Homo sapiens: one gene and its partners. The protein of the gene in region 1 purifies or fractionates together with the protein of each later gene. This does not show direct contact. Each region holds a gene or a part of one and is shown in the gene's direction. Other genes may lie near its edges.

Evidence for each region. Proteins that work in one complex are often made in the same cells at the same time.
Region 2: the proteins of YWHAE (region 1) and NKD2 purify together in Homo sapiens (affinity purification with mass spectrometry; 4 studies listed by BioGRID and IntAct, with this or other methods). This does not show direct contact.
Region 3: the proteins of YWHAE (region 1) and TBC1D1 purify together in Homo sapiens (affinity purification with mass spectrometry; 4 studies listed by BioGRID and IntAct, with this or other methods). This does not show direct contact.

The regions. Positions count from the first base shown.
Region 1 is NC_000017.11:1,362,210-1,369,234, reverse strand, and holds part of YWHAE (14-3-3 protein epsilon), read left to right. Parts: intron 1-4,176; coding exon 4,177-4,376; intron 4,377-7,025. UniProt on the Homo sapiens protein: Adapter protein implicated in the regulation of a large spectrum of both general and specialized signaling pathways. Binds to a large number of partners, usually by recognition of a phosphoserine or phosphothreonine motif.
Region 2 is NC_000005.10:1,025,786-1,032,810, forward strand, and holds part of NKD2 (protein naked cuticle homolog 2), read left to right. Parts: intron 1-6,366; coding exon 6,367-6,427; intron 6,428-7,025. UniProt on the Homo sapiens protein: Cell autonomous antagonist of the canonical Wnt signaling pathway. May activate a second Wnt signaling pathway that controls planar cell polarity.
Region 3 is NC_000004.12:37,894,068-37,901,092, forward strand, and holds part of TBC1D1 (TBC1 domain family member 1), read left to right. Parts: intron 1-7,025. UniProt on the Homo sapiens protein: May act as a GTPase-activating protein for Rab family protein(s). May play a role in the cell cycle and differentiation of various tissues.

The DNA.
Region 1 (7,025 bases):
CCCTGCTCCCGGCCGAATAGTACACTTTAAATGGGTGAATTGTTAGGTAGGGGAATTATATATAAATAAAGGTATTATTAAAGGGATAATTGTTGCTTCTATAATTTTACCACACAGTCTGTGCATTGTTTTGTGTATATGTAAAAATGAAAGCATTTATGCTTGAATCTGGAACAGTAGAGTATCACTGAGTGTTACAAATATATTTCTCTTTGCATTATAAAAATACTAAGTCTTCGTTGTTGAAAATTTGTAAAGCACAGAAATTTGAACAAAATTAAATCATAAGGAATGATATTCGAGATATGTAACTTAAATTTTTGGTAGTATTTGATGTCTGCATAGTTTTTCTGTATGTAATATTGTAAAGCCTTAAAAGAATTAATGGCACTGTTTTTGTGTAGCTGGGTTACTTAAGATTTACTTTGCGATCAGTTTAGAAAGTTTAATTACAGGCTTACCTCTGAGTTATGTTTGACTTGCTGATTTTTGAGAATTAAACTAGTATGGAGGTACGATTACCTATTCCACTGCTTCTAAATTTAGACTGTTTCGTGACTGGTTTAGAAAACAAAATTGGGCATGTTTTAGATGAATGCTTTCAGACTCCTACAAATGAATTAATGAGTGGTCTTATTACCATATTGTAATACTTTTTTTTTTTTTTTTTTGAGACAGAGTCTCACTCTGTCGCCTAGGCTGGAGTGCAATGGCGCGATCTCAGCTCAGTGCAACCCCTGTCTCCGGGGTTCAAGCGATTCCCCTGCCTCAGCCTCCCGAGTAGCTGGCACTATAGATGCCTGCCACCATGCCTGGCTAATTTTTGTATTTTTCTTTTTCTTTTTTTTTCCTTTTTTTGAGATGGAGTTTCGCTCTTGTTGCCCAGACTGGAGTACAGTGGCGCGATCTCCACTCAGTGCAACCTCCGCCTCCCGAGTTCAAGCAATTCTCTCGCCTCAGCCTCGAGTAGCTGGGATTACAGGCATGTGCCACCACGTCTGGCAAATTTTTTTGTATTTTTAGTTTCTCCATGCTGGTCAGGCTGGTCTCGATCTCCCGACCTCAGGTGATCTGCCTGCCTCGGCCTCCCAAAGTGTTGGGATTACAGGCGTGAGTCACCGTGCCTGGCCTAATTTTTATATTTTTAGTAGAGACGGGGTGTCACCATGTTGGCCAGGCTGGTCTTGAACTCCTGACCTCAGGTGATCCACCTGCCTCAGCCTCCCAAAGTGCTAAGATGACAGGTGTGAGCCACAGCACCCAACATGTCATCCTTCTTTAATGGTTCAGAATTGCATTTAAAAAATCAGCTTGAGGTGTACAGTTAAACGTGCCACTTTTACATGTACAATTCTGTGACCTGTCCTTTGCACAAAAGCCCCTCAGTTCACCTCTGTACCTTGATAACCATTTGCTTTCTGTCTTTTTAGTTTGTGTTTTTTGCAATTTGATATAAATGGAATGATAAAATCCTTTTAATCTGACTCTTTTCACTTAATATGATGTTTTTCAGATTCTTCCATATTGTTGCTTGTATCAGTTAATTATTTTTCTCCCCTCCCGTCTCCTCTTCTCTTTCTGGACACAGAGTCTCTCGCTTTGTCATCCAAGCTGGAGTACAGCGTTAGGATTATACAAAGTAATTGTGGTTTTTGCTGGCAAAATGCGCAATTACTTTTGTACCAACCTAATAGCTCACTGCAGGCCTGAATTCCTGGGGTCAAGCAGTTCTCTTGCCTTAATCTCCTGAGTAGTTGAGACCGCAGGCACACACCACCACACCCAGCTAATTTTTGTAGAGGCAGAGTCTCACCATGTTGCCCAGGTTGGTCTCAAACTACTGGGCTCAAGTAATCCTCCTGTCTTGGCCTCCCCAAATGCTGGGATTACAGATGTGAGCCACTGTGCATGGACAGTTAATTCTTTATTTTTGAGTGGTATCCCATCTTACATATGTGAACATCAGTGTGCTTATACATTTCCCCTCTGGATGCACATTTGAGGGGTTTCCACTTTTTGGCTATTATGAATAGAGTTGCTGTGAGTGAGTGTGTAAAAGTCTTTGTAAAGATTATTTTTCTTCTGGATGATGCATAGAATTGGGATTGCTGAGTCATATGGTACATGTTTATTAAAACATTGCCGAATATTTTTCGAAGAGACTTTACAAAATATGGCTTAATTTTTTTTATATTCCCGAAAGGATTAATTTTTGAAACATATTTTCCTGGATACATTAGGCACACTCCCCTTAATTTAATAGTGTTTTGGTTTTTGTTTTGTGTTTTTTTTTGAAACGGAGTCTCACTCTGTCACCCAGGCTGGAATGCAGTGGTGCAATCTCAGCTCACTGCAACCTCTGCCTCCCAGGTTCAAGCAGTTCTCCTGCCTCAGCCTTCCTGGTAGCTGGGATTACAAGCGTGCACCACCATGCCCAGCTAATTTTTGTATTTTTAGTAGAGACGGGTTTCACCATGTTGGCCAGGCTGGTCTCGAACTCCTGACCTCAGGCGATCCACCCACCTTGGCCTCCCAAAGTGCTGAGATTACAGGTGTGATCCACCGTGCCCGTCCAATTTAGTAGTGTTTTATGAAGTCACCATCTCTTTCATACCTATTAGTTAAGGTATGCTTATGCTTAGGGTGTTAATGAAAGCTAAGGATGCTTATTTAAATGCAGATTCTTTCTTTTGGTTTTTTTTGAGATGGAGTCTGCTCTGTTGCCCCAGGTGGCATACAGTGGGGCGATCTCAGTTGCAATCTCTGCCTCCTGGGTTCAAGCAATTCTGCTGCCTCAGCTTCCCAAGTAGCTGTAATTACAGGCGCGCACCACCAAACGCAGCTAATTTTTGTATTTTTAGTAGAGACCGTTTCACCACGTTGGCCAGGCTGGCCTTGAATTCGTGACCTCAAATGATCTGCCCACCTTGGCCTCCCACAGTTCTGGGATTATATGCATGAGCCACTACATCCAGCCTATTTTTATTTTTATTTTTATTTTATTTATTCTATTTTTTTTTTTTTGAGGTGGAGTCTCTGTTGCTGGGCTGGAGTGCAGCGGCATGATCTTGGCTCACTGCAATCTCCACCTTCTGGGTTCAAGCGATTCTCCTGTCTCAGTCTCTAGAGTACCTGGGACTACAGGCGTGCATCACCACGCCCAGCTAATTTTTGTATTTTTAGTAGAGACAGTGTTTCACCATGTTGGCCAGGATAGTCTTTATCTCTTGACCTGGTGATGTGCCACCTCGGCCTGCCAAAGTGCTGGGATTTACAGGCATGAGCCACTGTGCCCAGCCTCTGTTTTTATTTTTTAGAGACAGGGTCTCGAACTCCTGAGCTCGAGTGATTCTCCTGCCTCAGCTCTCAAAGTGCTAGGGGTATGAGCCACTTACTCCTGGCCCTAAAATGCAGATTCTTGAGTCTCATCACCAAAGATTGAAACGTGGGTAATGTTGGAGAGCCACATGGTAATATGGCATCAAAAATAAGTTTTTATTAATGTATTTATTCAGTTACTATTTCTTGTGCTGTTTGTGGCGCTTTGCATTCACACGCCGTTGTGTTTCCCTATGCTTGCGGTAGATGCCAAGGCTTTTCTGGGCCCCTTTCTTTGCTCGCCACCTAGTGGTAACAAGTAGGAATCATCAGAAGTTTTACCAATGAAGGAGCTTCATACGAGGAAGGATAGAAAACATCCAAAGTCTGTTGGTGGCCAACCATATACTCCGTATATTTTTGCTGTATGAACAAATTCCCCTTCCTTTTGTATTTTTGGAAATACTATTTATTTGTGAGACAATACATTTTAGAACCTGTAAATTCTTAATCTTTCTCTTAAACTGACAGCTCATTTTTTTTTGCTGGAAAATAGTTAGGTGTGCCTAATTACCTTATTTAATGAGAGGTGCTTTCAGACCACACTAAATTATATTAGATAGTATATGAAGTCTTTCTCACTCCACCTAACTACCTTCTGGAGTCTTTGTATTGGCTCTTAGTTTGGTTTCCTTTACATGTTTTTGGCTTTTTACTCATATTAGTTTTGATGATTATGAAATTATTTTTGTTAAAATGTTTTTTTCGCAGTAGCTTGACAGAAAAAAACTACTTTGAAAGGAATATGTTAAGAAAACTTCAAATTTGTAAGGTCTGACTTTTCCTTTTCCCATACAGAAATGGTGGAGTCAATGAAGAAAGTAGCAGGGATGGATGTGGAGCTGACAGTTGAAGAAAGAAACCTCCTATCTGTTGCATATAAGAATGTGATTGGAGCTAGAAGAGCCTCCTGGAGAATAATCAGCAGCATTGAACAGAAAGAAGAAAACAAGGGAGGAGAAGACAAGCTAAAAATGATTCGGGAATATCGGCAAATGGTGAGATTGTTGTGCCATCATCCCCCCTTATCCACAGTTTGAGTTACCTGTAGGACGGTACACTTAAGATTTTGAGAGAAAAGGAGACTACATTCATATAACTTGTATTACAGTATGTTATAATGTTTCTGATATTGATCTTTGTGCCTGGTTTATAAGTTAAACTTACCCGTGGCTATGCATGAGGACAAAACATAGTCTGTATCAGGTTTGGTATTTTCCATGGTTTCATCACATCCACTGGCAGGTCTCAATGGATCCCTCTTGGATAAGGGGGAACTATTGTATTTTCAAGCAAAATGATGACTGTTTTTTAAAAAAATATGGTGGGTTGGCCAGGCGCGGTGGCTCAGGCCTGTAATCCCAGCACTTTGGGAGGCTGAGGTGGGCGGATCACGAGGTCAGGAGATCGAGACCATCCTGGCTAACATGGTGAAACCCCGTCTCTACTAAAAATACAAAACATTAGCTGGGCGTGGTGGCGGGAGCCTGTGGTCCCAGCTACTCGGGAGGCTGAGGCAGGAGAATGGTGTGAATCCGGGAGGCGGAGCTTGCGGTGAGCCGAGATCGCACTGCTGCACTCCAGCCTGGGTGACAGAGCGCGAGACTCCATCTAAAAAAAAAAAAAAGCACCCAAAAACCAATATATTGGGTTAATTTGTCTGATTCCTCTTTTTTTTTCCCTGAGGATTATTTAATGAAGTTATTTTACTTACTGTGGGTGTATATACATATATAAAATGTTTCTTATTGTAGGTCTTGTTAAAAAAAAGTTGGACAGCCATCACTGTAATGCAGCAGTTTTCAATTAGAGGTGCTTTTGTACTTCAGAGAACGTTTAACAATGTCTAGAAATACTTTTGATTGTCACAACTTCTGGAGGGTGTTCCTAGCATCTAGTGGGGTGGGGACTGGGGTGCTGCTAACCATTCTACTGGGCACAGCACGGGCCCCACAACAAACTGTCGGGAGTGCTGCTGTTGAGTAACCGATTCTAGTAGAAGAGACAGGCACGTAAATACAGGAAAGAACAGGGAAGAGAATTACAGGGCAGGTGGAAAGTGAGGTTGGTTGGGGGAGGGAAGGGTGGGGGAACCACAGTTACTGACTCGCCAGCTGTACTGGGCACTGTCCTGAGTAGAGAAATATTTTTGTTACATGTATTTGTGCAAGGTAGTACATGAAATCTTTAAAATGGCACTGGAAGGGGGAGGTATTATCCCAACTATGAATGCACAAACCAGGGTTTTGGGTGTTTGACATACCTGAGGTCACATAGAAAGTTGTGAGCTGGGGCCTTCCGTGGTGGCTCATGCCTGTAATCCCAGCACTTTGGGAGGCCAAGGCGGGCAGGTACCTGAGGTGAGGAGTTCGAGAGCAGCCTGACCGACATGGTGAAACCCCGTCTCCACTAAAAATACAAAAATTAGCCAGGCATGGTGGCGGGCACCTGTAATCCCAGCTACTCGGGAGGCTGAGACAGGAGAATCGCTTGAACCCAGGAGGTGGAGGTTGCAATGAGCCAACGTCGAGCCACTGCACTCCATCCAGCCTTGGCAACAAGAGGGAAACTCTGAATCAAAGAAAGAAAAAGTAAAAAATAAAGAGTCCAGATGTCCTGATGAGTCCCTAAATAGAAATAATAAGAGAAGAGGAACTGAAAAAGGAAGCCACGGGCCAAGAGTGGAGTGTTGCAATTCAGACTTCTAGTATGGAGCAGCATGGTCATGGGTGTGGACAAGTGAAAGTCTAGGAGTAGAGAGCAAAGAACTCTGTTGAATGGAACATGGCTGCACCATACCTTGGTGTGATCTCAGGTATTGGGTGGGTTTGCTGTAGATACTCAGTGAATCTGGGAGAAGGGTGTAGAGATCTATTGATGACAAAAACTGAGAAATAGAATGTAGATCATCAGCTTGTGAGGAGGAAGAGTTTGGAGTAATAGAGCAGTCATTGAGTATGCAAGGAGCTAGGAGAACTTAGAAGTCTTCCTTCTCCTAGACCAGTCTCTATTGGAAAAGCTGTCAGGGATGTCGTTTATTCAGAAAGTAGTTTTGCTTGGGATAAGGATGTGATTATAGAAGAAAAAGAGAGAATTTTCTGCAGTGAAACGGAGGTTCCAGGGGCACGGAGAGGACCCTCATGAAAGGTTCAGCAGTAGTGCTGCATGAGTTAATAGCAAACAGGAAGCAAGCTGAGGATGTGCGTTGAGAGGTGGTGTGCGTGTTCAGCATGATCAGTGGATAGAGATGGGTGGCAGTAGCTACTTTGGTAGATAGGTTTTCGGTGTTTTAATAGTTACGGATCTCTGCCACTAAAGGAATTGCCTGGTGAATGTTGTTAAGGATGTGAGTGCTGAAGGCAAACTGCCTGGGTTTAAATTTTGATTCTGTCCCTTGCAGCCTGCCTGGGTTCAAATCCTAGCTCTGCTTATTAAATTCTTATTTAATTGTTGATCTTAGAGCAATGTCTTTACGTTGCTACCTTGTGAAAGAAGGTAATTCATGTAATTGACCAGCATTTACCAAGAAGCATCAGTGTTCAGTTTTAGTCATTGGTAATTCTGTAGCTGTACTGTGGTACTGTGAAGGGGGTGTGGGGGCTGGCGTGTGTGCGTGCCTGCATGTGTGTGTGTAACAATAGGCAGCA
Region 2 (7,025 bases), on another chromosome or scaffold:
TGGGTGCCCCAGCCCATTGTCCCTGCTCTTCCCACCCGCTAGTGGGCATCTCAGCCCGTTGTCCCTGCTCTTCCCACCCGCTGTGGGCGTCCCAGCCCGTTGTCCCTGCTCTTCCCACCCTCTGTGGGCGTCCCAGCCCATTGTCCCTGCTCTTCCCACCCGCTGTGGGCGTCTCAGCCCATTGTCCCTGCTCTTCCCACCCGCTAGTGGGCGTCTCAGCCCATTGTCCCTGCTCTTCCCACCCTCTGTGGGCGTCCCAGCCCATTGTCCCTGCTCTTCCCACCCGCTGTGGGCGTCTCAGCCCATTGTCCCTGCTCTTCCCACCCTCTGTGGGTGCCCCAGCCCATTGTCCCTGCTCTTCCCACCCGCTGTGGGCGTCCCAGCCCTTTGTCCCTGCTCTTCCCACCCTCTGTGGGCGTCTCAGCCCATTGTCCCTGCTCTTCCCACCTGCTAGTGGGCGTCTCAGCCCATTGTCCCTGCTCTTCCCACCCGCTGTGGGCGTCCCAGCCCTTTGTCCCTGCTCTTCCCACCCGCTGTGGGCGTCTCGGTCCATTGTCCCTGCTCTTCCCACCCTCTGTGGGCGTCTCGGCCCATTGTCCCTGCTCTTCCCACCCGCTGTGGGCGTCCCAGCCCTTTTTCCCTGCTCTTCCCACCCTCTGTGGGCGTCTCAGCCCATTGTCCCTGCTCTTCCCATCTGCTGTGGGCGTCTCAGCCCATTGTCCCTGCTCTTCCCACCCGCTGTGGGTGTCCCAGCCCATTGTCCCTGCTCTTCCCACCCTCTGTGGGTGTCCCAGCCCATTGTCCCTGCTCTTCCCACCCACTGTGGGTGTCCCAGCCCTTTGGGTTCCTTGGGATCCAGACATCACCCTCAGCCTTTTCCTGAGAGGCCCAGCTCCAGCCCGTGTGCCATATCCCAAAGCTCCCCTCCCTGAGCCACCTGCCAGGCACTCACTTCATTCTACCACGTCCAGCATCCTCCCAGCCCCCGAGGCAGGAGGTCACTGCTGGCCTGGACGTGGCCTTGGTCCTGCCCAGCCGCATCCCAGGTGCCTCCCGAGTGCCCTGAGGTGGCGGTGGCTGCAGCCTAAGCTTGGCAGGCGCCTACCTTGCTCCTCACCACTTGGCATCCTGCCTGAGCCCCACAAACTGGCCCTCGATGCCACGACAGCCCCGTAATTCTGGCAGCCTTGGGCCTGGCAGCCCAGTTTGTAGGATTAGCCCTGCAGAACAGGGTGGCCACAGGGGTGGTGACAATGACCACAGGACATGGGCCAGGCTGTCACCCCGGCCCTTCTTTCCAGCTCCTGGGGGCCCCCTGGGCACAGCTCGAGAGCCACTGCTTGACCTGCCAAGGACAGGGAGGTGCACCAAGGCCATTTCCCCAGTGGCAGAAACTTCGAGCCAGGGGCTCCACCCAACAGGGCCGTCCCCACCACAGTGCAAGGTGGCCAAGGCGCTGGGGAGCCAGAGTGCAGCCTGGGAGGTGCCTATGGATCTAGGGGTGCCAGGTGCTGCTGGTGGCGATGAAAGCTGTAGGAGAGGCCCGTCCTGTGTCAGGCGGTGTAGGAGCTGTGCCTTCTGGATAACGTCCCAGACTTGGGGTTCCACACCCACTCCAGAGGGACCCGGGAGCCCCGAGGTCTGGAAAATGCTGCCCGACACGCCCACCCAGTTCTCTGAAGCCTTCCTCTCTGTCTCTCTCCTCCCTCCCCGCTCCCTCTCCTCTGCCTCGGCTCCCATCACCTCCACCCTCCCAACTCGTGGGGAGACGTTGGGCTCCAGGGGATGCTCCCAGCCTGGCCTCCTGGACACGCTGTGGCCTTTGCCTGTTGATCGGGGTTGGTATTTCTAGAACCCTAGACCAGGGTTTAGGTCATGTCCCAGAGGGCCGTGACTTCACTGTGGACACCCGTGTGTTTCCCACCGGGCGTTCCACCAGAGCTGTGGCCAACAGCTGCCCTCACGAGGCCCAGGAGGGGACAGCGCCTCCTTGCATTTGCGAGACCTGGGAAAGGTGCCTGGCCGTGCCCACCTGTCCACTGGGAAGAGGACATCGCCCGCTCCAGGTGGCTCCCAGAGGTGCCTGCACCGGCACTTCCAGGTTGAAGGCCACCAGGATGATACCTGTGTTGCAGCTGCCTGGCGCCTCTGCAGGGGTTCCGACAGACGGGGTGGCTCTGGGGGGCAGTGGTGCTCCAGCTGCTGGGCGCTGCCGAGCGCTGGCACGTGGGGAACACACTCCTTTTGACTTTTCCAAGGAAGCTGGGGGTTGAGGTTTTGTGAGCGTCTCTCCGTGCCTGGCCGCCTGTGGAGGCTGTGGTTTGCATCTTACCGTCTGGGCTGGGACCAGGACGGGGGCTGGGTGCTGGGAGGACGAAGCGCTCAGCCCGGTGCCTGTGGCGGGGATCAGATGTCCTCACTGTCGTGGCGGGGACGTGGACGGTGGCCTCGGGGTGGTTGGCTCACAGACCAGGGTGGCCTTCCTGAGCATCCCGTAGGGCCGTGGGACCTGAAGCAAAGGCTACCTGTTGTTGACGCCGTGTGACAGACGCCTGCTGCTCATGCAGCTGCGAGGCTATGGGTTCTGGTCCCGGAGGCCTCCGTGGGTTGGGGTCAGACCCTCCTCCCAAATCTGAGGTGATGCTGAGTGAGGGAGTGGGGTTGAGCTGCTCAGGCAGATGCGGCTGCTTTCCTTATGGGATGAGGCCCCACGGGGCAGGCCCACGGTCGGGTTCCTGTCCTCCCAGGGGCCAGGAGAGCCCCCGGCATCACAGGAGGATGCCATGGGCGGGAGGGGACAACGGGCATGGGGAGGTCTGCAGGCCAGCCGTGGGGTCCCTGCTGACCTGGAGGGTTCTCAGGGATGCAGAGCAGTGGGACAGGCTAGAGGAGGCGCCTAGGCACCCCAAACCGGAAGTGCAGCTGGGACAGGAAGGGGGGCGGAACAGGTTGGGGGATCACAGGAGGGTCTCGCTAGGGACAGGGCCAGAGGGATTGAGGGGGAGGGTTGGGCCCTCGGGAGGGAGTGAGGGTAGGGTGGGTCCTCAGGAGGGCGAGGCCAGGTGGGGGCTGCATCTCAGGGAGGGGCGCCCGCCCTGGGAAGCTGAGGCTTTGGTGGGTGCCGGGGCACATTGGGCCAGGCCTGCTGGGATCCTGTGTGCGGACTTGGCCTCTCAGAAGGTCTTCCCAGTGGGGAGGGGCTGCACATCTGGCCAGCGGCCCGGGGGCAGGTTTTATAAGTTGCAATTAAAGCTCTTGGCCTTCTAGTTAACCGAGGCAGCGTAGATTAAAGGGCAGTTTTATGCAACCAGGACGGATCTGATGAAATCACCAGCCACAGAGATTGGAGTGGCTTTGACTGTAGATGCTCATTTTTTCCCGTTTGATCCTCCCTGCATCTCAGAGGTAGCTGTTGACCTGGGTCTTAGAAAAAACACTGTGCGTTCGAGCGCTGAGAATTCTAGGGAATAAGGGGATATTTTTTCAATGTGGTTTTCCTCTGTGTTAGGAACTCAGTCATGGGCTGGTTGGTGTAGTATTGGCTGGTTGATACAGCGTTGGCTGGTTGGTGCAGCGTTGGCTACATGGTGTAGTTTTGGTTGGTTATTACAGTTTTTATTGGTTATTGTAGCTTGGCTGGTTGGTGTAGCGCGCGGAGCGTTTCCAGACATCAAACCACGGGTCTGTGCAGATTCTGTCTTGAACAGCTGCGCCCCTCCTTCTGTCACCCTGTGCATTTACACTCCTGTCTGTAACCAGTGAAATCCCCCACAAGTGCGCTCAGAATTTTTAGAAACACGGCACGGGCTGCGTTTACATTTTCACTGTATTAGCTTTATGCGTGGAGTGCGTGATGTGCTGTTTCTCACTTGACATGTTCAGCAAATCGTGGGAAACACTTAAAAATCCTTAAAAAATACTCCACCCCGTCCAACCCGTCGCCCGCTGCCTGTCCTCAGGAGCCACCGCACCTCCGGCTCCTCTGAGTTCTGGCACTTTCCAGGAAGCCACTGCTGCTGCCCCTCATCTGGGCAGCGATGTGGCCTCCATGAGTGACCTCAGTTAAGGCTCTTTAGCAAGGAGTGCTGTACGCGCTGGCCCTCAGGCCCCAGGGCACCTCACTGCTATCTGTAAGGAGGCTCAGGGCACCCAGCACCATGCAGGAGGCCTGAGCTCTGCCTGCTGGTCTGATGGGAGGTGAACTGGGTGCCTGAGGGGGGATTGTGGTGCGGGGGGGGGGGTACTGAGAACCCTGGGGGCTTCACCACACAGGTCCCCTGCACCCTCCCCACATCCCAGAGGAGAAGGTCTGGGCTGGAGCTCCCAAGGGTAGACAGGGATGCCTCGGGGCACCCACCTCAGCATTTAGGGTCACCTTCCCCTCCCTACCAGCCCTCCACAGTGGCAGTGCCTGCGTCCCTCAGCCTGGGCATTGGTGGTCTTGGCTGCCCCCCTCCACAGTGACAGTGCCTGCGTCCCTCAGCCTGGGCATTGGTGGCCTTGGCCCCCCTCCGCAGTGGCAGTGCCTGCATCCCTCAGCCTGGGCATTGGTGGCCTTGGCTGCCCTTATGACACCATTTCTGTCGGCAGCCACCTCCAAGCACCTGCACGAGTCCACCTGAGGGGCTGTAGAGCTCCTAGTATCTGGTCCATCCCACGAGGATTCTGTGCCCATGGGGGCTGCAACTCTGGGGCTCTGGGCACTGCTCTGCACTCCATGGAAGCCCACGACTGCAGCCTCACCCATTATTCTGATTTTGAAATAAATAAATAAATAACTACAGCCTGGGTTTTAGAGATGATTTGGTTTTATGCCAGCGTCCACCTGGACAGAGCTTTTCCCTCACAGCGGTGCCTCCCTGCTGTGTGGATGTACAAAGGCCTCGCCGGGCTGGGCTCATGGGGCCCCTCAGGCTGCAGCAGCCAGTCCCGGAATGTCGGGACTGCAGCCCCCAGGAGGGAGGCCTACTTTTTAATAATCAGCTGTTTTGTTTCTTATTAAAATGAGGGCAAGCTCTCCTGCCTCCCGCTGGGAGCTGCCCACCCTGCCTTGGCACCGCCCTGGGCGGCCAGCAGGAGACCTCAGCTCTGGGGGGCCCTTGGCTCAGCCACAAGGGGGGCTGGGGGCCTGGGTCTCACTCAACAATATTCAGCCTCGGCAGCGCCACCTTAGTGCCCATGTGTGGGTGGGGGTCTGGTCCCTCTCTCCCCACCCAAGTTCTGGGGTGGCAGCTGGCCAGCCTGGAACCTTCCACCATACCCTGTTTGGACCCTGGCCAGTGACCACGGTGGCAGGAGGCGCTTGGGGGGGTCCAGGTGCCCTCGAGGGTGACCCTGCTCAGCCTCCTGCCTGGGCCAGACTCCAGGAACCCCAGGGACCCCGGCAGGGCAGACAGCCCCATAGGAGGTCAGAAGAGATGAGGGGCACATGACCCCTGGTCAGGAGGAAAGGATGAAGCCGTGGGGACTGTGAGGGCAGTCCCAGCTGGGCAGCCCTGGGGTCCTGTGTCCACCCACGGAGACACCAACTCGGCACCAAAGTCATCTCCAGGGTCAGGCTCTGGCCGTCCAGGTGGACGGGACTGAGCTCTGTGCTGTATCTCCTTGTGGGCTTTCCACGGCTTTCCAGGGACCTGGAATCAGAAGCAGAAACACAGCTGCCCATCCCTCCCGCCCGCCTGCCCGAGAGCTGCCTGCTCTCAGGAAATGCTCCAGGGCGGTGTGTGCTGGGCCGAGGGGCTCCGCACCTCCACCACTGCGCAAGGCCCCTGCCCTGACCACAGGTCTGTCTCCTTCTCTGTGTCCTGAAGGCTGCAGATTATTCATGAGAACCATGTGAGCTTCGGCTCAGCTGAAACACCGCTGGGATGTGTTTGAAGTTTTTCCCCATTTTCCGTAACTGGTCTCGGCCGGCAGCCCTATAAGAGGCATGTTGGGGTCCTGGGCAGCCATGCGGGCAGCGGCTGGAGTCCTCGTGTCAGGCTCCAGTGGGCAGTGCTGGGAGCAGGCCCCAGAGCAAAGGGGCAGTGTGTCTCCTCTTGCATTTAGGGTAATCCAGCATGGGGGCCCTGGCCAAGGGGATCCCCAGGGCAGCACTGACTGAAGGGGTCATTCCAGGCAGCTGCATCTTCTACCTGGAAATGCTTTGGGGAACCTGACAACACAGGAATGTCTGTGTGTTTTGCTTCCTAAAATCTGAGGCTGAGTGGGGCACGAAGGGTTGGTGTTTCTGGACCCAGAGATTGAGACGCCCCAGGAGGCCTGAGGCGAGTGTCAGGCTCCAGTCCAGCCGCCCAGAGCTCCTGCCCATCTCCCCCGCCTGCCCACTGAGCTATGTGGCCACTGACTGCCCCGTTCTTCCTGCAGGAGCTGCCCAATGGGGACCCCAAGGAGGGGCCTTTCCGGGAGGACCAGTGTCCCCTACAGGGTGAGTGCAGCTCCCGCAGCCCTCCCTCCCCAAACTCACAGACTTCATCCCGTACCAAGGCAACGCCGAAAACCACCCTTAAAACAACCCCGTGTGCGGAGCGAGGGCACTTCCCAGGCTTAGACGCACTTTGTTCTTAAAAAGCCTTGGCAGCACAACTCACAGGGTCCTCGCTGGACTGGCAGCTGCGATCTGGCAGCAGAGACCAAAAAGGCCTGTCCCATGGGCAGAGCCCTAAGCGTTACCTTTATGTGTTTGGAGTCTCTGTGAGCCTGTGTTTGTGGATGGGGGTGGCTCTGTATAAAGGGGACCTGTGAATTTTCAAGTTAGCCCTGGGCTGGAGGATGTGTGAGATGCTGGCCCAGCCTAAGTCACTGCCACGCGTGTATGCCTCAGTGGCACCAGTCCTACCTGTGGCGCGTGGCAGGTCAGCACTTGGCTTACCTGTGGGTCTGTGGGAGGGTGCTGGGAGGCCAGCAAGCAGGGCCACCTTCGGATGGCTGCTGAAGCCAAGAGAGGCACCCACACCCCCTCAGTGGGAAGGCAGGCCCAGAGCATCGTCCCAGCTCAGGCTCGACGTGCACCTGTCTGCAGGTGC
Region 3 (7,025 bases), on another chromosome or scaffold:
AACCTCCGCCTCCTGGGTTCAAGTGATTCTCCTGCCTCAGCCTCCCAAGTAGCTGGGACTACAGGCGTGCTCTACCACGGCCGGCTAAATTTTGTGTTTTTAGTAGAGGCGAGGTTTCACCATCTTGGCCAGGCTGGTCTTGAACTCCCGACCTTGTGATCCACCCGCCTTGGCCTCCCAAAGTGCTGGGATTACAGGTGTGAGCCACGGCGCCCGACCAGTTTTTGACATTTCTAAGCCAAAAGTTCCATTTGATGAGGTCTTAGATGCAGGGGCAATGTGTCCCTTTTCAGATTTCAGATGTTTAGAAAAAGATGTGTCATATTTGGGCCAACTGAAAAACTCTTGATATGTAGGTTTTTATGAAGCTGTGCAGAATGTAGGAAATACATTTTAGAACCAACAAAGAGGCATTTAATTTTGAGTGTGCCTGTCTCCTTTGAGATGAGCAACAGCTATTTTTCTCTTCAAAAGACAATGCGTGTATTTATCAGCACATTTTATATAATCAGCAAATCTAAACCTCTGAATTAGGTAAGCCCTATAGGTTTGTTGCCAGAATTAGTGAATTTATACATGCAAAGTGCTTAGAACAGTGCCTGGTACACAGTGAGCACTCAATATTATTTATTGCTATTATTATGTTTATTTATTTTATACTTTTAGAGTATAATTTTGATGTTAGGTTTGGATTGCTGAGGCCAAGCAAAATTTAGATAGACCAACCCAGCTAATCCACTAGAAAGATATTTGAGGGTTATTCCCATCTAAAGATCTATGGGATCTTTGGATATCATCTGTGAGAAACAACAGAAGTTTGTAGATAAGACAGATATAGATTCAAATGCCACCTTCACAATTTATTAGTGAGGGAACCCTTTGGTAAAATGAGCATGACAAAACCTACTTCTCAGCTTTGTGAACGTACAGAAGATCATGAATGTAAAATGTCCATGAAGTGGTAGGTGGTCAACAGATATTGCTCTAGCAAAGTGGTTAAGAGCAAGCAAACTCTGGAGCCAAAGGGCCTGGGTTCAAATCCCGATTCTGCCACTTCTTATAGTATGGCCTTGGGCAGGTGACCTCACTTTTCTGTGCCACTATTCAATGATAATATTCCTTTATTGTCCAACGTTTTGTAAGTTAAATCAGTTAATAAACACACTATGATAATGTGTTGGTAACTATTCTTTTTACTTTTAGCAGAATAACTTAAAGGAACACTGCAGGTAGGAGGGTTATACATAATCTCTGAGGGCCAGCTAGGACACTCGCCCATTTCCCACCCTTTTTCCTGTGCAATGAAGAGTATAAGAAGTGACAGTGCCATTCTAAAGGACTAGCCTTGAGTTGGCTCTAATTTATATGACTCGTGCCTGTAATCCCAGCACTTTGGGAGGCCGAGGCTGGCAGATCACTTGAGGTCAGGAGTTGGAGACCAGCCTGGCAAACATGACGAAATCTCATCTCTACCAAAAATACAAAGATCAGCCGGGCATGGTAGCACACACCTGTAATCCCAGCTTCTGGGGAGGCTGAGGCAGAAGAATTGTTTGAACCCAGGGGGCGGAGGATGCAGTGAGCTGAGATCACGCCACTGCACTACAGCCTGGGTGACAGAGTGAGATTCTGTCTCAAATAATAATAATAATTTATATGAGAAAGAAGTCATTCAAAAGCATCATTACTTTACATGTCAAATTAGAAAGGCACACCCCAGTACTAAAGCATCCTTGATGATGAAAACATTTAGAACCACTGGTTTCAGGAGCTCCATGCAATGGTGAAACAGCCTCTACTCCAAGGGTTGTTGCTCCCTGTGGGATTCCTGGGTGAGGAACACACTGCTCCCGTTGGGGTGGAATCCTGTGGAGGAAGTGGATGAAGAGTGTAGCCAAGTCAGTGAGCCTACTGCATGGGATTAGAGTACTTCAGGTTGCAGTATAATTCTGTTCAGGTGCATGCTCACTCCATCTGGCGTAAAGAACAGAGAAATTAAACCATTGATTCACAGAGCAATATGAGTAGCTGCCTGGGGACTTCCTGTCCATTCTGGGGTCCCCAACAGCCAATCAATATTGGCCGGTTCCTAATCTGACCTAGAGCTAGAGGCCACTAGCACCCCTCCATTCATCCTTTCTTCTCTCCCTACCCACTCCCACCAGCATTCTGAGGAGGTGAGGGCTGAAGCTGCAGAGGCTGTTGTACTGTCAGTTACTGTAAAGTCCCCATCCTGCTCTCTGTAGTTTGCTGTGAAGGAGTGGAGGGGGCTGGGAACAAAGGGGGTTCCCAATAAGCAGCTTACTAATACCTACCCTTGCTTCTCTCACTTCCTGATCAATAATTCCCATCCTTTCTTCATGTACCTCCCCCACATTTTTGTTCTTTAAGGGAAGAAGGGAGCAGCTTTCCATCCCCACACAATGTTGGGGACATTTGGTATTATACATTATGAAAATAAGATTTACCAGATTTTAGAGATGGAAGAAAACTTGGGGATGATCTTGTTCCATTCTCTTATAAGAACAAACAATATTTGGAGAAGCTGAGTAACTTGCTTTTTCAACTTCACACTTGAAAGTGTTTTCATGAGGAAGTTGGGGTTCTCTGCAGCACTTGGATGGGAGTCAGGGACTTGGATTGTCCCAATTCTGTCACTAAATTTGGACAAGCCACTTAACTTTTCCAGAATCTAGTTGCCTCATTTCAAATATTAGGGAAATTTCTAAATGGCTTAAAAGGAGCTTGTTAGCTTTAAAATTTTATGATTCTAAGTGTATGCTGCCAGAGATATGTAGCATAGCAGGACACATTAACAAGATTATTGAAACTGTTCTAATAAAGGACATCTTTGTGTCTTGGGTAGCTACTATGTTTAAAGACTGTGCTAGGTGGGAGTTGTGCAGAATACACAGGTTTGCTGTAGAGGGATAGGGCGTGTACACAGACAACTCTACTAACAAGAACGTTACTAGAAGCTTATTGGAATCACAGTATTTCTTGCTGAGGGTATGAAACATAAGAGTTCTCCTTGGAATATGAGGTTCTATTTGGGGCTTAAAGAATGGTCAAAGGTTGAGTGCAAATAACATGGATTGAGATGGCTTTAAAAAATAATCAAATGGTTTGTTAGTATTAAACTGGTGCAGAAATAATTGCAGTTTTTGCCATTCCTTTTAATGGCAAAAATTGCAGTTACTTTTAAACCAAATCCCTAATATTATTTGCATAGTTTATCTCTGTTATGGAAGTTTTTATTGACAAGTAATGTAGATATTCACCTGATCTAAGTTACCCTGAATCTTATATTAGCAGAATCTGAATTGCTTATAAATAATTATGGCTATGTTGGATGTAGAACTTATTATTTGATAGTTTATGAACAGTGCTAAGGTCTAATCTACTTTTTACAGAGAAGCTAAGAACATGCTACAGCTGGTTGAAAAACAAAAACTTCAGGCATTGAAATGTTTTGTCAATGAAATGGCAGGACTCATTTGATGACTGATTATTATCAACTGATTTAAATGACTGAATTTTTGGTACTGTGTACATCTATACTCTAAGAAGGAAATTGAAAGTAATTCTGCTATGCTTGTTGCCACTATATTAATAACTGCATCATCTAAAATAATTGATAGAGCTCAGATTTATCCTTTGTAATAATTCTAGTACTTCTTTAAACATGTTTTGGGATTAGCAGCTGTCAACAGTTAGAACATGAAACAGATTCTGTTACAGGAGTAGAAGTCGATCCAGACATTTAATGTCATTTTCACCTGTGAGAGAGAGAATAAAGAGAAAGAGAGATCATTATTTATGGGATTATGTGAACTTCAAGTCCGTTTTCATTATTAGGAGAAGCTGTGCTTTAAAGGACAGTCAGGGACTTTACTTTCATGAAATGCCTGAGCTGTAAATAAAGTATTGCTTTATTTTTTATTTCTTGAACATTTGAAATAAAAAATTAGCTATGAGTTATGTTCAAATTATATTATAAAAATTTGCTCTTAGCATTGTGCATATATATTATACAGAAAAACACAGAGTAAAAAGAATAGACTTCAGTTCCTGTTCAGAAAAGGTTTAAAATTTGAATACTGATTTTGGAAACCCCAAACCTTAAGAATTCAAGAAGCTTACGGTCTTCTTGAGGGACACCTATTCAAACTCTTAAATATGGTGATTGGGTAGAAAGTGCAGAAAAGCCTGCTGATACATGCCCTAAAACACCTTGGAAAAAAGAGGTGGTAGTTGCTTGAGGTAGGACTTAAGTACTAGTTGGAAATAGAAGACAAGGATGGAGACTGTTGGTAGATGACTCTCCATGGGTCCTTCCTGTTTCTACACACCTTGTAAGCAGGGCATTGAGTGCCTGTGTTCCAAACTACCTTTTCCATCATGTTTCTACAGCAAACAGTCATGGAAGATAGAAATAGAGTCTTCCTCTGGAGCAAAGGGCAGACACGCTTGCTTCCTGTACTTCCCACTATAAGATATTCCGGCTCCCTAAACTCAGCTGCCTTTCCTGTAACCCACCATGATACAGATGTCACCTGACCTGTGGGAATTGGGGGTCAGGGAACCAAGAGAAATGCTGACTGTCTGGCTACTGTGACTGCCCTGAGTAATAAATTGTCCTTCGTCTCCAACCCAGGAGTCTCATGTTTTCTACCAGCAGGATAACTGTGGCGGGCTAACGTGTTAGTTTGCAAGTAAGGTAAAATCTCAGACCCTTTGCAGTTTGTGGCAGGGATTATATTCTGAGGAGAGAGGAACCGTATGCACCATGGCTCAGAGGCATGAGAAACGGGGAACCATAACTAGTTCTCTATCTTCAGAGCCTTTAAAAGGTGCACCAAGGAGGGCATTTTAGGGGAGAATATAAAGTTGGAGATATAGACACAGCCAGATTCCTGAGAGACCTTATATGCCAGGTAGAAGACTTCAGATTGTATGGGGGAATTATTAGAGAATTTTTAGCAGGGGTGTGATATGATAAATTTTGTGTTGATTAAGTTACTCCAGGAAATATGCGATGGGTGGATTGAAGGATGGGGCACCTTTTCTCTAGGACGAAAAAGAAAGAGTAGTTGGTGAAGTCAGTTAGAGGTAGTAATAGGATGAAGAAGGGATCTGAATGACCCCTTGGCCATTCAGTGAGTAGTGATGCTATTCACCTAGATACAGCACATAGGAGGGAAAAGAAATTCTGGGAAGGAGGGAGATGAGACCGAGTTAGCTTTAAAATAACTAAATTCAGGCCTAGGAGCCTATAGGCTATCCAGATAGAAATATTTAATGGCCTATATGGATCTGGAACTCAGGAAGGAGGCTTCCGTGGGAGCAGAACACTTGGGCACCATTAGGGTGTATGTGGTAGATGCATTCTTGTGCAGCAGTCAAGGGGATGGGATTTAGACTCAAGTGCAAATTGCCCCCCATCTCCTGTGATAAGTGACTGAAGCTCTCCGGGCTTCAGTTTCCTAGTTCATCATAGTGGGCTCTAGCGGATAAATGTTACAAAGGTTAAATGAGACAACATAGGCAAAGTGCGTGGTACTCAATAGAAGTCAGCTGCTGTCATCAGCAGCAGGATCACCAGAATGTGGTGCTTGACACCAAAAGATTAGGTGAGATTGCCCAAAACAGCAGGTGAAATGAGGGGAGAGGATGAAGTCAAACACAGGAAGAAAAGCCTTTGAAGTATGTGGAAAGAAACAACCAGAAAGGTAAGATAAGAACCAGAAGAGATTCAAGAAGGAAGGTGTGGCCGGGCGCGGTGGCTCAAGCCTGTAATCCCAGCACTTTGGGAGGCCGAGGCGGGCGGAACACGAGGTCAGGAGATCGAGACCATCCTGGCTAACACGGTGAAACCCCGTCTGTACTAAAGATACAAAAGAATTAGCCGGGCGCGGTGGCAGGCGCCTGTAGTCCCAGCTACTCGGGAGGCTGACGCGGGAGAATGGCGCGAACCCGGGAGGCGGAGCTTGCAGTGAGCCGAGATCGCGCCACTGCACTCCAGCCTGGGCGACAGAGCGAGGAGCCGTCTCAAAAAAAAAAGAAAAAAAAAAAAAAGTAAGGAAGGTGTGGCCAAGATTGAGAAATTCGTCAGAGCAAACAAGGCAGTCAGGGGCTAAATAGCCTCCTTTAAATTTTACAACCTTGAGGACCTCGGCAACTTTAACAGAATTTCAGTGGATCCCTAGGGCAAACCAGGCCTTACAAACCAGGAATGGATGGTCAATAGGAAGTGGAGACAGTAAGTGTAGACCTTACCTTGGAGGGAAGGAAGAGAAAGAGCCATGGCCAAGGGAAGTTTGAAATCAAAGGAAATATCTTTTTTTTTTTTTTTCGATTGGAGAGACCTCAGTTATTCTTTTAAAATACTTATTGAGCCCCTCAGTTATTCTTTTAAAATACGTATTGAGTCCCTACTTTGAGTCAGGCACTATGGCAGACACGAGGGAGATAGCAGTGAATCAGACAGATGCAACGCCTGCCTTCATGGAGTTTCACCTTAGCATCTGTCCATATGCTAGGGGAGTGGGGCAGGGGCAGGGAGCTGGATACAGGAGAGACTGAAGATCCAGGGAGCAAGTGAGTAAAGAATAGGGCTTGAGATCCCACAGACAACTCAGCTTTGAACAAAAGGGTTTTGTCATCCAATAGGACAAGAAGGCGTTAGGATACATCAAACGTGGTTGTTGAAAACAGAAAAGGGCTGGGCACTGTGGCTCATGCCTATAATCCCAGCACTTTGGGAGGCCAAGGTGGGCAGATCACTTGAGGCCAGGAGTTCGAGACCAGCCTGGCCAACATGGTGAAACCCCATCTCTACTAAAAATACAAAAATTAGCCAGGTGTGGTGGTGCATGCCTGTAATCCCAGCTACTTGGAAGGCTGAGGCAGGAGAATTGCTTGAACCCAGGGGGTGGAGGTTGCAGTGAGCCACGATCGTGCCACTGCACTCCAGCCCGGGCAACAGAGCGAGACTCTGTCTCAAAAAAAAAAAAAGGAAGAAA